Linked DNA regions of Homo sapiens. The protein of the gene in region 1 purifies or fractionates together with the protein of each later gene. This does not show direct contact. Each region holds a gene or a part of one and is shown in the gene's direction. Other genes may lie near its edges. The genes, in order: RMND5A, RANBP9, GID4 and RANBP10.

What was found.
Region 2: the proteins of RMND5A (region 1) and RANBP9 purify together in Homo sapiens (affinity purification with mass spectrometry; 11 studies listed by BioGRID and IntAct, with this or other methods). This does not show direct contact.
Region 3: the proteins of RMND5A (region 1) and GID4 purify together in Homo sapiens (affinity purification with mass spectrometry; 6 studies listed by BioGRID and IntAct, with this or other methods). This does not show direct contact.
Region 4: the proteins of RMND5A (region 1) and RANBP10 purify together in Homo sapiens (affinity purification with mass spectrometry; 6 studies listed by BioGRID and IntAct, with this or other methods). This does not show direct contact.

The regions. Positions count from the first base shown.
Region 1 is NC_000002.12:86,772,284-86,778,581, forward strand, and holds the end of RMND5A (E3 ubiquitin-protein transferase RMND5A), read left to right. Parts: intron 1-1,064; coding exon 1,065-1,128; 3' UTR 1,129-5,758; downstream 5,759-6,298.
Region 2 is NC_000006.12:13,620,951-13,624,835, reverse strand, and holds the end of RANBP9 (ran-binding protein 9), read left to right. Parts: intron 1-2,343; coding exon 2,344-2,474; 3' UTR 2,475-3,338; downstream 3,339-3,885. UniProt on the Homo sapiens protein: May act as scaffolding protein, and as adapter protein to couple membrane receptors to intracellular signaling pathways. Acts as a mediator of cell spreading and actin cytoskeleton rearrangement.
Region 3 is NC_000017.11:18,035,047-18,042,440, forward strand, and holds the start of GID4 (glucose-induced degradation protein 4 homolog), read left to right. Parts: upstream 1-4,361; 5' UTR 4,362-4,418; coding exon 4,419-4,856; intron 4,857-7,394. Other genes in the region: ATPAF2 (ATP synthase mitochondrial F1 complex assembly factor 2), read right to left, coding at 3,835-3,967.
Region 4 is NC_000016.10:67,722,556-67,726,593, reverse strand, and holds the end of RANBP10 (ran-binding protein 10), read left to right. Parts: intron 1-35; coding exon 36-166; 3' UTR 167-3,524; downstream 3,525-4,038. UniProt on the Homo sapiens protein: May act as an adapter protein to couple membrane receptors to intracellular signaling pathways.

The DNA.
Region 1 (6,298 bases):
CTAAAAATACAAAAACAAAAAATTAGCCGGGTGTGGTGGCGGACACCTGTAGTCCCAGTTACTCAGGAGGCTGAGGCAGGAGAAGGGCGTGAACCCGAGAGGCAGAGCTTGCAGGGAGCCGAGATTGTGCCACTGCACTCCAGCCTGGGCGACAGAGCAAGACTCCATCTCAAAAAACAAAAACAAAAAACAAAACAAAACAAAAAAACATAGTGCTAAGTGAATTATCTATACCTGATACATAAATTCCTAGAACTGAAATTGCTGGTTCAAAGGATATATGCATTTGTAATTTATTTTAGTTAGTGAGCTCAGCTTTTTTTTTTTTTGCGATTGAGTCTCACTCCATCATTCAGGCTGGAGTGCAGTGGTGCTGTCTCAGCTCACTGCAACCTCTGCCTCCTGGGTTCAAGCAATTTTCATGCCTCAGCTTCCTGAGTAGCTGGAATTACAGACGCACACCACCACACTTGGCTGATTTTTGTATTTTTAGTAGAGACAGGGTTTCGCCATGTCGCTCAGGCTGTTCTCAAACTCCTGAGCTCAAGCATCCACCCACCTCAGCCTCCCAGGTGTGAGCCACCTTGCCTGGCCAAAATTGTTGATCTTAGTTCAGGCTGTACTGGTTTCATGTGTCACTGTGAGGCATGTGGGCCGTTCTTGGTGTGGGCTTGTAGCTGCCATCAGATTTGCTGCCCTTGAATGGATTGTGTGACCAGTACATTTGAAATTCATTTAAAGACTGTTGCAACCTAAACCTTTGGGAAAGAGAAATTGAATTTATTTTCGAAACCCCAAAAACAATTTCCAGAAAAGTTACCTTTGTTTTGTTTAAGAAACAATTTAGGATCTGGCATGGGTGGTATGTATTTGTGACCCTTCAAATCTTGGCAGTTATATTAAGGGAAAGCATAGTTCATCCTCAAAGCAAAATACAAACAGACTTGTTTTTGTGTGTTCTTATATGTGTGTATAATTGTTAAAGATACTCTATAACTAGATAAAAATTGAATACACAGTACTGAGCCTGCTCCTTCACTCAGTGTTTTCTTCTTTGTCTTTAGATTAAAATGTCCCTACTGTCCAATGGAACAAAGTCCAGGAGATGCCAAACAGATATTTTTCTGAAGAGATAACTTTAGTTTGCAATTTGTAAGTGAAACTGAATCGTGGGTGCATTTCAGAAGAGAACGTTCCATATAATGCAGCTAACCAAGGACTCCTGTGTTTCTATAAGCTAATGCTCCAGAAACTTTGCCAACCTGTTAGTGTACACACACTGAGGGGAGTGCTCCCGGTGAATATTATCATAGGGCTTTATTATATTCTTGGTCTTCATTTCTGATCAAGTAAATACACCAGCAGTTGTCATTCAATGCAGGTTTTTGTACTTAATTATATGGTGATTTTTTTACTTTTTAAGAGCAGAAACGGAAATTGACCTCCCCGCCATGTGTTTAATATTCCTCCTGCTTTTACTTTTGTCATTTTCTTGATAATCGTAAGCCTTGAGAGTGTTTGTGAAAAAGTTTTATTTCCTGTTATGTATACATAATTAAATGAAAATTCTTCAGAAAAAGTTTGATAAATTGAATTGTGGTTATGAAACTAATTTGCATTTTTATTTGCTTAAGAAAGAAAGCTGTGATAGATTCCAGATATGCTTTTTGATGTTTTCCTCTGCTCCAGCTCCAAGAAGTCAGCACACCTGCATTTTAGCTCTGCATGCAGCCCCAGCAGGCTGCGTGTTTAAGAATTTCATTGTTTAACTGGCTGGTGTGAGAAGTCTTCCGTTAGCATAGAGTGGAAGGAGTACTATTGTTTGGTTGGGTTTTTGTTTGTTTGTTTTTTGTTTTTGCTTTTATTGCCAAGAGGTGCTTGTTTTAAAAGTATGTTTAATAAAATGAAATTCTAAAGTTAGAAGTGTTCTTAAGTTGATATTTACTCTCTTGGTCTTGGTAGCCCTATTATATCATTGCAGACACAGTGTTGTGCATGTGTGTATTGTATATGTGCACCAGCATCAAACATTGTGTATCTGGAAGGAAAGCAGCATGTTCCAGTTCTAAAATGCAGTTACCAGACCCATCACTTTAAATCCTTAAAGTTAGAAGCTAGCAAATTTTCTGTAGTGCAGAACGTTTATTGCTGTTTTTGTGTTTGAATAGTATAATGTTTGATGCCTCTCTTCTGCAAAGCGTATCATCTCATTGACTGTGAATCTGTATATTATTCTGATGGATACAGATAATGATCTTTTCTCTTGTGAGGTATCTTCATTTATGCACTGTCCAAAAATAGCCATGTGTAAGAGTCTTTCTGTATGACGAACTACATGGAAAAGACTTCTGTGGACATAATTCTGACCGAAACCCATGAAGTTACTTCAGTATAAGAAGAACGTTACACGGAAATCACCAAATATTTTGCAACTTTATTTCTTCTGACATGGAGTGAACATCAATAGGAATACTTTCAAAGAAAATGAAAACACAGAAGCAAAGAGAAATGTGGCACTTCACATTTTAAACTACAGATGGACTTGGTTTGAGGGAGGGGGAATCACAGATTTGGTGCTAAGTTAATTAGAAACTGGCAGCGTTTTACAGTAGTACACCAGCCTGGATGTTTTTTCTAAAATGTTTACCTGGGAGAGCTGGGGTTTGTTTGTGAGGAGAAAGAGTACTGTGGAAAACCTCTGCTTGAGTACCATGTGGCCAGGCCTATGTGGATGGCTACTCCGTGCTGTGCGGCTTCACCAGCGGTTGGGATTGGCCCAGCTTGGAGTGCTTGTGTGGTCCAACCTCAGTCTGGCCCCATAGCGACTTTTGCCCCATGATTCTGCTTCACTGTTGGAATCCTCTTTGAAGTTCCCCCTCTCTTTGCTAAAGCAGTGAAGGAAGAGAACAGAGACAAACTCTTTGGACTGTGAAAGAGAAGGTAGAGAATTCCAGGCAACAGTCTGACCAAGGGTGTAAACCAGTTTATTATATATATATTTTTCCTTTGAATTAAAACCTAGAGTGTTGTATTTTTCTTTCTTTCTTTTTTTTTTTTTTTTTTTTTACCCTTTTTCTCCTTAGGCCAAGTTTAGCTTATTCTTATCTTTCCACCCAAACACCTACACAACGTTTAGGCTTCCTGTAAGGTTTGAATGAGACAGATGTACTCTGAAGGCTGGTGGTAAATGTGTTTGATGACCAGACTCTTCATACAGTCGGCTTGGGCCACTTTAAAGGACAAAAGCCAGAGCTCAGCTTTATCCCTCTCCCAGTGCTGGGAGCCAAAAAACTGTTGACGGTTTTTTGTGCAGCTCAAGAAAACTTTGAAAAGAACATGCTTTAACTGAAGCATTGGACTCTGCAGCTTTCTGTGTAAGGCCCGTGTACTCCCACTGGGCAGGGTGAGGACCAAAAATCTGAAACTCTTATGAATCTGACATATTATATGGAAATTATATCTTGTGACCGTCTTCAAGTGCATGGACTTAAAATTCATGAGAGACTAAATGTGAGGGAGAGGTGGATTTAAAGAGGCCAGACCTTAACCAAAGATGCTGAGATACAGCATTCTGTCCCCCCTGCCCTAGAAACTCCATAAATGCTGTCACAACCCTATCATCGCTGATGCTTTCTGCATGTCAGCAGTCCAGGAGGATGCTTTTTGTCTCTCTTTGCCTCCACTTTACAAAAGATAATATGATAGAGGCAACGTTTATAACAGTCACATTTAATTATAATGTACATCAAAGGCAGAATTTCAGAATGGTTTCTTAAATTTCCTTGGGAACCGTTTCCACATATCAGTTATAGACAAAGGCCATGGGACTATGCTAAACCAATAAAACCTTATTAGCAAATCTTTAGATTCTGACTTAGCCAGAGCATCTGAGTGTTCAAGTACAGTTTTACAGTGGCTAAGGTTGTCTCTTGATCTTTTTTCTCCGTTGTGTGATCACAGATGCTATTTCTGTTTTATTGGTGATTATACGAGACTTCTAATACATAAATGAACGGGTATTGGTGCCTCTTTATTTTAAAAAATTTGAAGAAAAGAGCCACCTCATATTCATAGGGTGTGTATTTTTTGAGTGTGAGCATTTAATTGAAAATAAGAAAGCTATGAAGTAAATGTTAACTTCTCTGTAGCAGCTAATGCATAGAGACACTAAAACCCACACCACATTTTGTGGGAAATGAGGATCCTGATCCTCTTTTGTCCTCTCCAGGTAGTCTCGCAGGTTATGCAGCTTAAGTTCAGTCTTCTTTATGCTGCGATTGATTTCCACCTCAGTGGCTTAGCCTTTGGGACAGTGGATACTGCAACAGCCAAGAACTCTTGGTTATCCGCACAAGCTGCTGGTAGACTACATTAGCCCTCTGGTTTTCCAGCTCAACCTCTGATAAAGTGGACTGAGAGCCACGCTGCTCAGTCTGTTTCGTCAGCCGACTCAGGTTATTTTCAGGGAAGGCATGGAGGCATAGTTTGGTTAGTTTCATCACTAGGATGTATAAGGTGACGACACAAACCAAATACCTTTCTTTCATCACTTAACTATACGTACTTTATCTCTGGTAACACTAGAATGCTGTGGTCTTGAGGGAATGTTAGCAAGGAACACATAGAAGATTTGGTGTTTCATAAGCCTGTCTAGGTGTGGCAGGTTTTGTGTGGTACACTGATGTTTACCATAAGCAGGTACAAGCTTCATGAACCGTTCTTAATGAACTATAATTGAATAGATACCAAAAATAGAATGACAAATGTATTTTAATAGCAGATGAGGCAGTTTTAGGATGAATTTTCCACTGTTGATTTTACTTCAAGACATAGCAAGAGAAACAAAATTTTGTTTTCAAGACATTTCCACTGCAGTTTCAAGCTGTAGTGGGCATATGCTTCATTTACTTCCAAAGAGGCAAAAGCAGCTGGAATTGGCTTACAGCACATGCTTTGTTTCATGTTATGGGTGAGGACCTACATACACTCTTACTTTAGCAGTCACTTAACCTTCTCCAGCAAGGCAGTTGTGGGGTTCACTAGGATTTAGTGCCTGATCTTTTTTTTGGGAAGGGGCGGGAATGAATGTGTTGGGGCTGGGAGGGAAGCAGAAGAAAATGGGAGTGTGAGTGAGTGTGCATGTGTCTGAAGTTCACCATTGCCCCCACCTGCACCTAGCAAGGAACAGGTGTTTGATGTATTTTGCTCATGACTGCAGTATGCATGTATTTTTTTCCTTCTCTGTGTTTTCTAAACTTACACTAAAGGATTCATCAAATCATCTTGTTCAGATGGCTCAGGATTGTATTTATTTTGCTTACCCCGTGCTCTTGGGTTCTATAGTATTTCTATAATTATGTAACGAGAATAGTGTTGCACTGTAATCTATCATATAGAGCTATATGTATGGAAAATTTTGATCAATTTTTTAAGAAATGTATCCTGTTTGCAAAGGCACAGTAAAGTTGCATCTTATAGACTATAGGCAATAAAGCTAACAATAAACCTTATTTAACACAAACCACATCCATATCCTCTGTTCATTTGATTTTGGAAAAAGTAGCATATCCAGTAGTTTCAGGGAATTCATTTTAACTTTAAGAATTCTGATATATTTAATTTATAAATTTCGGACTGATATAATAGAGTTTTGGAAAACTATAAGAAATGCTTTGTTAATGTGTGTATTCCTATGTAAAACACATGGCTTTTCCTGTGTATATTTTTAAAAATTAAAGAAATGCACATTTAAAAAGTGTTTTGTGGAACCAGTCTGTATAAATGTGCCAGGTGACAAAGGTATGAGGGAGGGAGTAGGGAGGTGCTGACTGTGAGAAGAGAAAATTGCTGTCTGTATTTGCTAAGGGTCTGCATGTCAAGAATTTAAGAAAATATCTGTCCCCATCTTACTGTGTTTCTGTGCCACCAACAGTGAGAAGAGAAGGTGACTGAGCAGTGTCCCGAGTTGTTTTTTGTTGTTGTTTTGAGACAGACTCTCACTCTGTTGCCTGGGCTGGAGTGCAGTAGCCCAATCTCGGCTCACTGCAACCTCCACCTCCTGGGTCCAAGCGATTCTCGTGCCTCAGCCTCCCGGGTAGCTGGGATTACAGGCATGTGCCACCATGCCCAGCTAATTTTTTTTTATTTTTAGTAGACAGTGTTTCACCATGTTGGCCAGGCTGGTCTCGAACTCCTGACCCTCAAGTGATCTGCCCACCTCAGCCTCCCAAAGTGCTGGGATTACAGGCGTGAGCCACTGCACCTGGCTGAGTCCCGAGTTTCTGAGTAGGGGATTGTT
Region 2 (3,885 bases), on another chromosome or scaffold:
TTATATTAGCCGGATTCAACTACATGCCCTTACCCAATAAAAAGGGTGGGTGAGGAAGAGAAAAGCAATTTAAAAGGCGAGGCTTAGCCAGGGGTGAGCATCAAGTGCGAAACGCTAATTCGATGTTCGTTTGGTTGCCATTCCTATGAGCAGCTCACTGTAGCGTTTGTGATTATAGTATTTATATACTGAACAAGTACTTTTTATATGAATTGTGTAACTGCACATATTGTGCATTTCTATATAAATGTGATAGGGTCGATTGTTTACATAAAACAAGTTTGAGTTTTGGGCAGTTCTCATCAAAGGTAATTTATATAAAGAGTGAGTTTTCATTTGACTTCAGAGTCTAATTCCCAGGTAATTGGGACTCCAGTCTAGTTTAGAAGTCTGTGCTGTGCTGTTTGGCCCTGCAAGGTTCAGGGACTTTTAGTCACATATTTCAAACTAGTTTAGGAAGATGAGGGCAGTGCCACAAAAAGTAGATTAAAGAGTAGTTTAGATAGGGAGACTTGCAATGAGGGCCAGGACTCTTACAGCAAGAATGTAAAGGAAGCAATGAAAAGCATTCATATTTAAGACTCAGTCTGTTTCTTTGCCCTTAGAAAATTTATTAATTTGTTAAGGACCAATACTGAAGTTTGGGAATAGGAGTAGTGTCCTCAGTGTTGTAGTTCTCCGGAATTTAGGATTTGTATATAAATGTGAATTTTCTTTGGTTAATGTGTTATATTTTCATTGGTTCTACAAAATTCATTTAGCTCCGTTGGTAAAAGTAACTTAGTAATAATGCTGGAATTGTAAGGAAAATTATGGTTTACTATAAATGTCTTTTTGAAGTTATATTGTAGGTAATCATTAAGACCTAATTATTAGATGATACTAATCTTTAAAGTGACCAGTTTTCTTACAATTTAGTTTCTTGAGTTCTTCAAGGGAATTTAATTGTTGAGCACCATTATCTATAGACACATATACTCTTACATATTGTGCTATATTATGTAGATTCAGCCATAAATAGTGCTTAATCTTATTAATATAAATGTATGCGATTCCTGTAAAATTAATGACACAATTATTAAACTGCTATAGATGGGCATGTATATGTTTATAAATACCATGCTATATTATGTAGGTCCATCTATATAGTGTTATGAAAATTTCATACATCCAAAAAAGTTAAAGATGCATCGCCAGATGCTTCCTTTGGCCAAAATAAAATTAAAAAAATATTCCCTGTAGATGTTTGTCTTTGAGCACGGTCTTCCCTGTGAACCCTCAAGACACCACACTTTCTCATCAATCTATGTGCCCTTTTTTGCACACGTTTATTCTTAATCCTGTTTTTGTTTTCTCTTCTACCTTTAAGTCCTGAATTTGCTTCTTTCTGATATTGTGCTTTTTCCCTTTTGGAAATTTCCTCTTCTTTCTTCCACCATCAAATTGCATCCTCTGAACCAAGAGTGGAGTTAAACCATATGAAGCCTTCCTAGCCATGTGTCAACTGTTTTTGCCCTTTGTTGTCAACTGTGCCTATAAAGAACTGATTAGTAATTTTATTGATTAGTTTGGACATTGCCTTCTCATAAAGAGAAATTACCAGCTTCTGAGTCTGGCCACTTTTACCATTAGTTCATTTTTTTCCATCTCTGGCAAGGAACAAATTTTGTTAATTATTGCATTTGTACTACAAATGTCTGACAAAGAAACTTATGATATGCAGGACCCTGAAAATTTATTGGCATTTTTTTAAATGTCTGAACTGTCCACTGTAAATTAGCACCTCCAAAACTGTGGGGTGGCTCTGCTGTATGTTCTCTCACTGTCACCACCACCACTTACTCCCCACCAGCCCAAATAACATTACCTATATATGCCTTGGAGATGGCTAGGCAGCCTGTTTGGTCCTATCCACAGAGGTGGAAGAACCCATCAGTGGAAACTTGTAATGAAAACCTGGTGCCTTTTTTAGTTTTAGTTAGTATCAACTGACTTTGATCAACCAGAAGGGAAATAATTCCTTACTCTCCACTCCAAATATCAGATAAAAAATTGTACCTTTCCCATCATAGTTAATATGGAAGTATTTTAGTATCTGATACTTTAAAAGTCTGATTCTGCCAGAGTTTATCTTATAGTTGAATACACAATACCCACACTACCTTGTCAGAATAGTATGTCCAAGGCGGCATCTGTCTTTTGCTTAGAAACCTTCATTTGCTGATATTTCAGAGTGGTATGGGAGTGGTAGTTTTTAAAGTCATTGCAGTATTCTCCTGATTGAAATGTTTTTTAAAATGTCTTGCTAATTGCTGTTCTCATTTTTAAATTATTTTTCCTCAGAAACCCACAATCTGCCAAAGCAACCTCCACTTGCCCTAGCAATGGGACAGGCCACACAATGTCTAGGACTGATGGCTCGATCAGGAATTGGATCCTGCGCATTTGCCACAGTGGAAGACTACCTACATTAGCTATGCATTTCAAGAGCTCACACTTATATTGTGGCATATAGTCAACATGGAAGTAGACCAGCTCTGCTGATTTGAAATTTAGATTTTTTAAATTATGTACTGGGGACAGGTTTTTGTCGCTTTACATTGCTTCCTAGTTTACAGCATGATGCAAATGATTTTCTAACTTAGTGTTAGGAGAAATTATTTTCCATCTTTAACCTCTTAGTTGTCTAAGAGTTAAATATTACTGAATTTCAGACGTTCAAATTGATCATCACAAATCCTTTAAAACAATTACCTAAAAGAAACCAAAAATCCTGCCTTCTTTGTGGGGGAGGGGGGAGAGAGGGGAAGGAAATGGAACAAGTTGTGTTTGTGTTAGCATGTGGGTGATGTAAACTTCAAATTGGGAGATGTTCCGACCCCCACTCCCATATAAGCATTCAATCAGTGTAACTTGCAAAATGCATAAACATCCGACAGTTTGAATTTATAGTGTTGATGGAAGAAATCATTTTTAATGTGTACTGTAAAACTTGAAATACTCAGGAGCTGAGTGAATATGTTTGTTGCTACTTACAATCCCGACCTGTTAGTCCCAGTAGTTTTGTTTTAACATGGTCTTTTTCAACTTTGTTTCCTGTTTAACTACAGATGACTTCTGTTGTAGACTCACAAGTTTAACTGTTGTATTATAACAGTATTACATGTCAACGGTGTGGTTATGACCTTTATTTATATAAAAACCAAATATTTAGTCAATTTACCGTGTCTTAATTTAATCTTTGTACACCTTCCATTTTTAAGTGCTTAAATGAGTACTATATTGCAATAAAATGTAGTGATATAATTAACCAGCCATTAAAAATTTACTTCTACAGATACAGTGTCAATTGAGTTTATATATTAGGTACTTGCATACTTTTTATGATTACTATGAAAATTAGAGCAATTAAAATTAATGGTTTCTACAATTAATCTGAGTTCTACAACCTAAAATTGCCTTCAGTTTACTGGCATCCCTGGATTAGGGTTAGACCTGATATTGTGGCTGACACAGAAAGGCAACAGGAAATTAACTTCATTATTTTCATATTCATAATATGGCATATGAGACTCACCAGGCAAGCAAATCCCCAGACTGGTTAAAAGTAAAAATTTAAAAGCTGTTAGCTATATTTTGTGCACTGAATCTTTAATAGCAAATTGTCTACAGGCTGCAGTTAGAGACTTTGCTGGAATATCCATTTCTCCTTTTAGTCCGTGCCATTTTTGCCACCCCTCTAACCCGGGGAGAGTAGAAGAGGTGCTGTTGCTGATGTGGGTATGGCTTGAATTCAGTTAAATATATTAAAAAGAAAACAATTCCTTCTTAAACCACTTTTTCCTCTAGGATTGCAAGGCACAGTTCTACTCCAGAAGAATGAAA
Region 3 (7,394 bases), on another chromosome or scaffold:
AGCAAGACCCCATCTCTACAAAGCACTAAAAAGCTAGCCGGGCATGGTGGTGTGTGCCTGTAGCCCTAGCTACTTGGGAGGCTGAGGCAGGAGGATCACTTGAGCCCAGGAGTTTGAGGTTACAGTGAGCTGTGATCGTGCCACTACACTCCAGCCTGGGCAACAGAATGAGACCCAATCTCTTAAAAACAAAAAAAAACAAAAAAAACCCAAACTTTAAAACATTATGCTAAGTGAAAAAGTCAGTCAAAAAAGACCACATTCTATTTATATAAAATGTCCCAAACAGGGAAATCTATAAAAGAACAAAGGAAAGTAGTAGTTGCCAAGGGATGGAAGTAGTAAGGGTGGATGATAGCTAAAGGGTGCAGGTTTCTTTTAAGGGTGATAAAAATGTTCTAAAATTGATTGTGGCAATGGCTGTACAATTCTGTAAATATACTAAAAACTATTATATTTACACTTCAAGTAAATGAATTGTATAGCAAGTAAATATCTCAATAAAGCTGTTAAAAAAATCCTTCAGGCCAAATGTATAACATTTAGCAAACTTTTTCTGCAAAGAATCAGATAGTAAATATTCTAAGCTTTGCAAGCCATACAATATCTGTTCCAACTATTCAACTCTGCCACTGTAGTGAAAGTAGCCATAGATGATATGTAAATGAATGCATGTGGCTGTGTTCCAATAAAACTCTATTTACAAAAACAGGTGGCAGGCTGGACCCTGATCTACAGACTACATAATCTCCCTCAATCCACACCACTATTCTATGAGGATGACAAGGCAGCTAATGCCTCGGAGGTGATAGAGAAGCTAAACATCTTGTCTTGGTGACAGACAACTGGTAAATAGCAGAGACAAGACTTCTAGCCTTGACTTCATCAGGCAGTTGCATTCAGCCAGATACGCTGAATAGATAGGTTTCTCCAGAACACCTGCCACTCTGGGAGTCAATAGACCTCTGATAAGCTGGTGCAGAACTAAACTGCCACAACAACCTCATATAGGTCTTCTTGTTGCAATATCTCCTTCTCCAACACCTCAGTGACCCTTTCGTAAACTCCTCCTCTCCTTCTGATAACCTTCAATGGCATGGCCATTCCTAAGTGGCCAAGTTCAATCAGCTTGCTGACTGAAGTGTTCATTGAGAAGAACCCACTGCGGTTTAATCTTCTACTACTTCAAATACGCACAAATATCTCACAACTGGTAAGGTCTTTAGAGAGAACACGTGGGGGTCGGGGGCCGGGCGCGGTGGCTCATGCCTGTAATCCCAGCACTCTGGAAGGCTGAGGAGGGTGGATCATGAGGTCAGGAGATCGAGACCATCCAGACTAACATGGTGAAACTCCGTCTCTACTGACAATACAAAAAAATTAGCCAGGTGTGGTGGTGGGCACCTGTAGTCCCAGCTACTCGGGACGCTGAGGCAGGAGAATGGCGTGAACCCGGGAGGCGGAGCTTACAGTGAGCCAAGATTGCGCCACTGCACTCCAGCCTGGGTGACAGTGCAAGACTCTGTCTCAAAAAAAAAAAAAAGCATGCATGGGCCTGATTTATGCACCTCCCTTCTCATTCATTCATTCCTATTTTCTTTCACATTTGACTACCTACCATGTGCCAGGTACTTCCAAGAGCCTAACTAGTAAGTTTAGGCTTTTTAAAAAGGAAAAGAAGGCAGTAGATCAAGTGCCACCATTATGTAAAGTGAGCATCCACAAATCTAAATTAACCCTTTGTGGTCAGGCATGGTGGCTCACGCCTGTAATCCCAGCATTTGGGAGGCTGAGGCGGGAGGATCACCTGAGGTCAGGAGTTCATGACCAGTGTGGCCAACATGGTGAAACCCCATCTCTACTAAAAATACAAAATTAGCCACGTGTGGTGGCGGACACCTGTAATCCCAGCTACTTGGGAGGCTGAGGCAGGAGAATTGCTTGAATCTGGGAGGTAGAGGTTGCAGTGAGCCAAGATCACACCATTGCATGCCAGCCTGGGTGACAAGTGTAAAACTCCATCTCAAAATAAATAAATAAATACGTAAATAAATAAATTAATTAACCCTTTGCTTTTTGCCAACTTGGTGAACTCCTGAATGTGTCCCCTTTGCTATGCCTCCCTGGGATGCCCTTCCTTTCTCTTCTTTACTGGCCCTTCATGGCCCATTTCCAGGCCCTTCCCCTGAGTCCTGCAGGTGAAACTTCAGCTCCCTGCTGCATCCAGCCCCCTTCCCCATTTCTATAAAGTTATAGAACTTGGCTGGGCGCGGTGGCTCACGCCTGTAATCCCAGCACTTTGGGAGGCCGAGGTGGGCGGGTCACAAAGTCAGGAGTTCGAGACCAGCCTAGTCAATATAAACCCCATCTCTACTAAAAATACAAAAATTAGCAGGGCATGGTGGCAGACGCCTGTAGTCCCACCTACTTGGGAGGCTGAGACCACAAAATCGCTTGAATCTGGGAGGCGGAGGTTGCAGTGAGCCGAGATGGTGCCACTGCACTCCAGCCTCTGTGACAGAGGAGACTCCGTCTCAAAAAAACACAAAAAAACAGAAGAAGAAGAAAAAAAAAGAACTTGACAGCCAGAAAGATCCTCAAAGGCAACCTAGTACTTCAACGCATGGAGAAAAATGAGGAAGTAGTTGCATGCCCAAGATCACACAGACCTCAGAGGTTCAGCCAGCATCAGATCCTAGATTTGCACTCCTGCCACAATGCCAAACTGCCTGTGAAGTTCTGGATTTTCTAAAACAGGCAGTGTCAGGGAAAAGTCCCTCATACCTTGCTGTCACCCTGGACACGTTCTAGATACCCAACACTCTCCCACCTTTTTGCTGAACTCCTACTCATCTATCATGGCTCAGCTTAAACAAACGCCCTTTCACCCAAGACCCATTCTAAACCCTGAACATCCCCAAGATGGGAGTAAGCGATTCTCTGTGTTCTCACAGTTTCTTTGTATGTCCCTTATCAGGATATTATAAACCACAATTTAATCAGAATATTATAACCTTTTGCAATGAACAGTGAACATCATTCAGGTGGGCCTTTTTCTTCTTTAATTGAGCTTCTCTACCAATACATACAGGTGGGTCTTAAAGACAACCGTGCCTCCTGCCTCCAGCACAATAAAACTAATTGAATGGTGGGAGGGTGTTACTGCTCTTCATTCACTGAAATGAGTCATTCTCACTCTTACCCTGACACCACTCACCATCAGCAATGAAAGAGCCACTACTTCTAAGCTTCATCAGAGTTGGAGGTGGAGGTGACTCCACAGTCAGAGGTGGAGGTGTCAATTTCTATTTAGGAGAGAAGGCTGCAGATGGCAGAGGTTGTGGTAGGAGGGAAAGTCAGGAAACCTGCAGCAGAAGTGCCCGGGATGGAGGAATGAAGGCCCAGGTTCTAGGTCCCTTCTGGGCAGGTCTTGTGTTGGGCAGTGGAGACACGGAAAACAGTCAGACAGACACCACAAACCTCTGAGAGAGTCTGCCTGTAACCCAGACGAAGTCCTGATTCAGAGCCCAAACTTCCCCTTTTGAAAACAAAGATGACACCTGCTTTCCTTATTAAAGGGAGGGCAGCCATAAGCTTTGAGAAAACCTGCACAGGCCAAATATCAATTACTGTATCGTGCGTGACTCGCTGTTCCCTCTCGGGTCGTCTGCCCTTGTCTGGGCTTCACTTTCTCATCTGTAAAAAGACCTGACTGGCCTGCATAACCTCATGAGCCTGAACCCTGCCTCAGTTACTTCGCTTTGCACAGCCGAAGCCCGAAGCCCACCTTACCCCAGCTCGGCCCCAACCCAAAAGAACATGTCATGGTCTTACCTGTCGGCGGGGCGTAAGCCCGGGCTGGAGACGGGATGGTTGGCCCCGGACTCATAGAAGCGCTGGGGCCACCCGCCGGCCGATTCAGGAGACGGCGTCCCCCGTCCCGCAGCCGGAGGCAGCTCCTCCACATCGCGCCCGAGGGTCTGGGAAGATGCGAGACGCGAAACCTGGAGCAGGAAACACAGAGCGATGGGATCCCCAAAGCCGCACGGTCGGGCTGTACGGAAACCTCTCAACGCCTCCTCAGAGCCCTCAACCTCCCTTGGACGCCGCCATCTTCCGCATGACACCTACGGCGCGCCGTCGCCGCCGCGCGCCTCCTGCGCACACCCCCAGTCAATCAGCATCACAAACGCACCTCGCCCCGCCCCCTCCACGCCGCGCCTCGGCGAGGAGACTACAAGTCCCAGCGGGCCGCTCGCGCACCGCGCCACGTGTTTTCTCCTCCCGCCAATGGGCGGAAGCGCCGCCTGAGCCTGCTCCCGCCCCCCAGGCTCGCCTGAGCCAATCGGAAGGGGCGGGGTGTGTGTGTGTCTGTGTGTGTTTGTGTGTTGTGTGTCTGTGAGTGTCTGTGTGTGTGTATGTGTGCGCGAGGGCAAGTCGGGAGGGGGACCCAGCTCAGGACTGGGAGGCCCTGCTCGCAGGTCCCTGGGTCCCGGTGGCGGCCGGAGCGCTTGCTCCGCAGGCAGCGGGCGGGTGGTCGCCCCTCCCGCCCCCACCCCGCGCGTGCGCGCCCCGGCCTCTCCCTCCCCGCCACCCTCCTCGGCTCCCGCGCGGCGGCGGCGGTTCCTCTCCCACTCCCCCCAGCCCTGGCTCCGGGGGACCCCGCGATGCCGGTCCGCACCGAGTGTCCCCCGCCGGCCGGTGCCTCCGCTGCCTCCGCGGCCTCACTCATCCCGCCGCCGCCCATCAACACCCAGCAGCCCGGCGTGGCCACCAGCCTGCTCTACAGCGGCTCCAAGTTCCGCGGCCACCAGAAGAGCAAGGGGAACTCGTACGACGTAGAGGTGGTGCTGCAGGTGAGCGCCGGGCCGGGCCGGGGCCCGAGGGCCTCCTCGCGGCGCTCACGGGCCGTGCCCGCTTCGGCTCCTCGACCCCGCAGCCGCGGAACAGGCCCTCGCCGCCGGGGCCTCCTGCACCCGGCGCTTCCCACCCGGGACCTTCCCAGCCTGTGTCTCACACTCTCCGAGCCCCAGCCCTGACCTGCCCCTTCGGACCCAGAGCCCGTCGTGACCGGCTCCTGGCGGACCCCGAACACTCCCAGACTTGAAGCCCGTGACCGGCCCGTCTGGGATCCGGAAGCCCCTCATGACTCGGAGAAGGCCTGGGTCCTTCCTCCCCATGACCTGTCGTCCCTAGATCAGGGACTGCCACCAGCCCTTTTCAGACCCTGAAGAACTCTCCATTGGTTTCACCAGACTTGGGACCCTCCCCATGTCTGGGCCCACGTCAGATTCTCTCAGACCTGAGACATGTCCTCCTGCCCCTTCCTCAGTTCCAGGAATCCGCAGACCTTGGGGTCTTCCTCCTCCTGAGATCTCCTTAGGAGGGCTTCATCAGACCCCCAGACGGGGGAGCACCTAACCCGCAACTGATTGGTCAGGCCCTGGCCTCACCTCAAGACCAGGCACTCACTCCCTGAGTGCTGCTCACAGTCTGTTGGGATGTTGCCTCCTGGGTCCCCTGTTCCACTCACTGCTTCTGTCTCTTCATGGTCCAGGCACCCAGCTCCTTCCAGCTTCTCCACCCCCAGGCCTCCTGCCCCTGCTCTGGGACCATTTGCAGTCTTTTCCCAGTCTTCCTGGCCTCTATCCAGACTTCCCCACCCCATACCTTCGTCTTGCTCGATCCTGGTTCCAGGGGACCCTCTTTCCTGTTCTTAACTTTTCTCTACACAGGCACAGGGCTTCCTCTTAGTCTCTGGTACCCATGTACTGGGAAATCTAACTCACCCAATTTTAGTTCATGTCCAGTCGCCTCCCCCCATTTGACCTGGATTCCTGAATACCTGCTGCCAGTCCCTGATCAGCTTCGGAAGTACAGCTTCACTTGTCTGGGCCTTTCCCACACCTCACTCCTCTCAGGCTTGACACTTTTTGCCAGCTGAAATGGAGTGGCAGTGGTGAATACTCTTTTATCTCCCCTCCCCACAAAACTCTTCCTCCTCTATACCTACCCCTGCCTGACTAAGGACCCCTTTCCCCTTCCCTTTGCCCTTTTTTTCCTTAGTCTGACACCTCATCTGCCAGGCTGTTCCCAGAAGCCCCTCCAAACACCTGTCCCTCTGAAAGGCACTGTGTGCTGCCCCACTGCCTCCCCCCCGCCCCACCCCCCGGGGTGTGAGGGTGGAATGTACAGTATATTTATTCCTCAAGCTCTCCTTTTGGTCATTTAAAACAAATCTTAGTTTCACTTCTGAAGAGTAGGTCTCCCATCCAAAAGACAATGAGGGTGCCTTTTCTTTCTGCTAACTGCGGAGCACTCATCACTCTTTTATTCTCATACTGCTTTGTGGGAATAAATCATTTTCTCTGCTTACTTGAAACAGCATCGTCATGTTAATCATATCTTTGGGCTGTAAAGTTCTATCATGAGCCACGATAGTTATTATAATGGAAATACGATTGTGGCTGAAATATTTTTGTCTTCATAACTGTATGCCTAATGTAGTGATCCTCTTCTTAAAATGTGAGAGTCGAGTATGAAGGTACAGGGGTTTTTCGGTTTGTTTTGCACCTAGTCATAGAATTCTGGAGGTGAGATCCCTGGGTGGGTCACGTTTGGGATGATCTTGGATTTGTCCCTGTTGTTCAGTTTGATGGTTTCTGATGTAGTAGGGGACAATTGGCAAGATAGCCAGGCGTCAAAGGGGAGTCTGCTTTGGCTACTGCAGCAACTGCTGCTCCCTTCTGTCATTAGGGTATCACTTCTGAGCTCCTTTCAGAAGGAGAATCATGAACCAGGGGAAGCAGTGGTTGAGTTGGGGCAGGGCTGATAGGTCTCAGGCAGCCCAGAGCAGAAACCTGGTGGATGGCTGGGAGCCACTTGAGTAAGATGTCTGATGGTGGGGGTGGTGGTCATGCCAATGAATGCTGCCCTACATCTGGATTGGTGAGCTGCTTGGTCATCATCACGACTAGTCAGTGGCATGTGAATTGCCCCATCATCTGGTTTTTCAGCCAGGACTAGTTTGTCAGACACAGCCTTCTTAGACTTAAAATACTTCTGCCTTTTATAACTCAGCTTCTTTTTGTTTGTTTTGTTTTGTTTTCTTTCTTTCTTTTTGTATCTTTATTTAGATAGAATTCACTTATTTAAGGTGTACAATTCAATAGTTTTTAGTATATTCACAGTTGTTTAACCACCACCACAACCTAATTTTAGAATATTTTCATCACCCCAAAAGGAAACCTTGTATGTAACCCTTAGCCATAACCCCCACTCCAATCCTAGGCAACTGCTCATCTATTTTTGTTGTTGTTTGTCTATTCTGGACATTTCATATAATCACATAGTATTTGTCCTTTTGAGATTGGCTTCCTTCACTTAGCATAATG
Region 4 (4,038 bases), on another chromosome or scaffold:
CAGGCCAGTGACCAGGCCTTGTCTTTCCTCCACAGAGTCCCAGAACCTGCCAAAGCAGCCCCCTCTGATGCTCGCCCTGGGCCAGGCATCTGAGTGTCTCCGGCTCATGGCCCGAGCAGGCCTGGGTTCTTGCTCCTTTGCCAGAGTTGATGACTACTTGCACTAGCTGACTGTGCTGGCTGGCTCTGGCTGGCCCTCCACTGGCCCCAGGGCTGGAGCTGCCCTGCCCTCCATAGGCAACTGGTGCAGGGACTGGGAAACCATAGACAGAGTCCACTCCTCCTGCCTGGCCTTTCCCCCTCTCCCTTTCCTTCCTTCCTTCCTTTCTCTGCCCACCACCCCGCTCAGTCTCTCTCTCTCTCCCCTTCACGTGCAGCGGCCTGTAACACAGTATTGGCTGGTTACTCTCATGTAGCGCCTTCTATTTTGAAAGGGGGGTTTTGTTTTGAGGAGGGGTTGGGGTTTTTAAATTTTTTTCTCCTGACTGAGCCACCAGTATTTATCTCTGGAGAGTTTGTGCTGAGCTGGTTTCTGCTAATTTAGTGATGAAGCCTATCCAAGTTGGTGATAGCTTATTATTTTCATAAGTAAAAAACAAATGAGATTATATATATATATATAAAAATATATATATTAAAAAAAAAGACAGTATTTATCGTAGCATTAGTGGTCCAGCACCTCTTGGGTGAGGCTGTCCAGGCACCATGTTTTCTTTGAGTCCAACTCATTAAAAAAGAAGAATCTCTGTCACCTCAGCCAAGTGATTTATTTTTTGCTCCCCCTTTTTTGAGTCACAGGCCGAGCTGCAGCCTAGGAAACCCAAATAGGGTTTGGTGGGCCACTTAGTGGGCATGGTTACATTGGTTTATAGCATCCCAAGAACTGTAGATCCCTAGGCCCCTGAGAGCTGGACAGAGCAGAGAACTACAGGGCCAAGGGTCCAGAGAAGTGATAACTTGGCCCAGGGCCACACAGCAGAGGTAGAGGGTCCTTGGCCAGCACACTATCTACCACTCTACCCCACCTCCCACTGCCTGCCTTGCTCCCCTTTCCTCCCTTTTCAATACCCTATCTTCCCTTGTTGTTAAGATGGCCAAATAATACATTTACTCTAAATTGATTGCCTGGAAACTACCTGCCTTCGTCCTGAGAGCTTCTGTGTGTCAGGCTGCTGGAAAGAAGACTCCATTCCCAGGACAGAGGCCCTTGAGTACAGGGGCTGCTTTCTTCCTGCCTAGATCTTCACCATCTCTGCACAGCTCTGAGAGAATGGATGCTTTCTGTTGAGAAACCAGTACCTTGTGGAGGCAGGTTCTTGGGCTGCTACTCCAGGGAGTGGATGGAATCCTTGGTCCCCTAGGCCAGACTTCACTGCCACTGTGCCAGACAGCTCCCTGCAGCTGGGCCCTAGCCACTCTTAGGAAAGACTATTGGGAGTATTTGCTGGCCAGAGAATGGGACTCTATCAGCTTTACACATGTCCCACCAGCTGTTTCAGATAGATCCTTACAGCTGGCAGAGTAAAAGTGGTCCCGCTACCATTGGGGAATCAGGAAAGGAAAGACTGAGATGGTTGCCAGGACTTGGGGTGGCCCACCTGTGGAGAGGACTGGCTGCCCTGGAGGAGGAAAGGGAGGAAGTCTACACAGAGGAGCACCAGGACGGCTGGAATTTCCATATGTGCTTCACATTGTGAGGGGAGTGCACAAGCCGCCCATGCAAAGAGTAGGGTCAGCCATGGCAAGGCCGGAAGTTGAACTTTCAGTCCCTGCCTGAATCTGGGCTTTGCAAGCTCCTGCTCCATATTGGTGGACATGGGAATGGTTGGTGTGGCCTGAGATACCCATTGCTCACCAGGCCTCACTGGGCCCACAGCTGGGCAACAAGAAAAATGTTTGAATTGGACCAACTGCTGGTGATGGGGCCAGGGCCCTGGGCCCTGTGCTGTCAGAATTCTGCCTTGGGAAATGATCCTATAGCTGCTGCTTTTTCTTGGTCCTTGGGGCTGGCAGACCCATAGACCATGGCCTGTTAGGAGGCGTCCTGTCTGTAAAGGAAATTCATCTCTTGTGACAGCCTGGGGCTACCTAGCTCCCAAACCCAGAAGTTGGAGACATCAGGCTGTTTAAATGATCATAGCCTAGCAGGATTGGATTAAAACCACAGGCTTTTGCAGCTGGAATGGGGTTCAGTGAACATCTCCCCCATTCCTCTCTTGCTACAAATAAGGAAACAGGCCCAGGAGATTAAGTGACTTGGCTAAAGTCACATAGCAAATTAGTAGCAGAGCCGGGACTATCCCTTATCCCTGTGGGTTGGGCAACACTATTTAGTCCTGAAACCGAATGGCAGATAAACCCCATGAGGGGTCAGGCTGATGTGCCCTCCAGCAGTATCTGAGAAGCTGCTACCTTCAGGGGTGTGTCAGGGATGAGGACGGGTGCCTGAGCTTAGGTTGTGGAGTGGCTGAGAGGGCCCAGGAGGGCTCGGGACAGCTGTGTGCTGCATGGGGTTGGGTGTCTGCCTGGCTCGCACTTGGTACCCATGGCCACCTCCCCATTTTCTGTGCCTTATCTCACTGTTTCAGCTGAGTCCAAGTTGTTTACTCTGTTCCTCTCCAGAGGGGCTCTCTGTCCCAGTTGGGCAGCTCACCTTTGGGACATAAGCCTTTGCCCCACAAGCTGTGGAGAGGGCCAAAACCAAGCTGCTTGAGCCCACTCTCTTGCTGAGAGTCCAGGCCTGCCTGCCTGCCAGCCAGAGGTGCCCCTTATGCACATCCAGTCCTACCAGCCTGCTTCCAGGAGCCTAGAGTGGGAAAGGCACCTGGGGGAGCCCTGGTGAAGGGCTGGACCTGACCCATGGAGGCAGGAGGAAGACCTGGCTTTCTTGGTTTGTCCGGCCCTGGGGAGCAGCCTTCCCTACTCACTTTCCCCTTGCGGCACCAAATGGTCACTCCTTCCAGAGCAAAAACTGGCACTCATAGCAAGCCAGAACCCCCATCCCCATCCTCATGGGTCTGTGGCTGGGTGCAGGCCATCAAAATGGACACCACGAGACAGAAGTGGGGACTGCCTGGCCACCTAGCGCCTTCCCACTCCTTAAGCAAGCACAAAGAAGATGAGGCAGAGAATTGTCAGAGCTGAAAGTTCCTTTGGTTGCTCACAACTCAGGTATGCACCCATGTGGCAGCCAGGCAGCGGAGCCCTACTAGACTGCCAGTCTCATGCACCCAGACCTGTGGCCAGATTGTGGCCTCTGGCTGCCTCAGGCATTTTCCTCTTTGCATTGGGTTTTCCTGCATTAGTAACTACAGCTGCAACAGACATCCTCCACATTGTGCACACTGGTTTTGCCTTTGTCCTCAAGAGTTGATACTTGGCATTAGCATGAAACTTGTGGGTGTGGGAGGATGGAGAGAGAACTCTAACACAAAACATCTTATTAAAATTGTACTTGAGAGACAAAAAAAAAACTCTGTTGTATTTTGACAGAATTATTTTTATTAAAATACACATCCATGAGCAGTCATGTGTGTCTGGTCTCTGTTTTGAGTCTTACTGAGGTTGGCACCCCTTCTGTGACACATCCTGTCCTAAAGGATTTGGGCCCTTCCCAGCCTCTCAAGTGCCCAGGCCCTCAGGTGCCTTCTTCAAGGACCTTTGAAACTGTGTATTTGTAAGACCCCAAAGAGGACAGGTACTTAAACCTCAGTTCTCTCTTGAAACGGCTTTCTTCTTATACAAGGAAAAAGTAGCAAATTCAACTAAAGAGCCTGGGCACAGTGGCTCACGCCTATAATCTCAGCACGTTGGGAGGCTGAGGCAGGTGGATCCCTTGAGCTCAGGAGTTCGAGAACAGCCTGGGCAACATGGCAAAACCCCATCTCTACAAAAAATACAAAAATTAGCTGGGCATGGGGGCGCATTCCTGTGGTCCCAGCTATTCAGGAGGCTGAGGTGGGAGGATCACTCGAGCCCAGGAGGTCAAGGCTGCAGTGAGTTGAGATCATACCACTGCACTCCGGTCTGGGTGACAGAG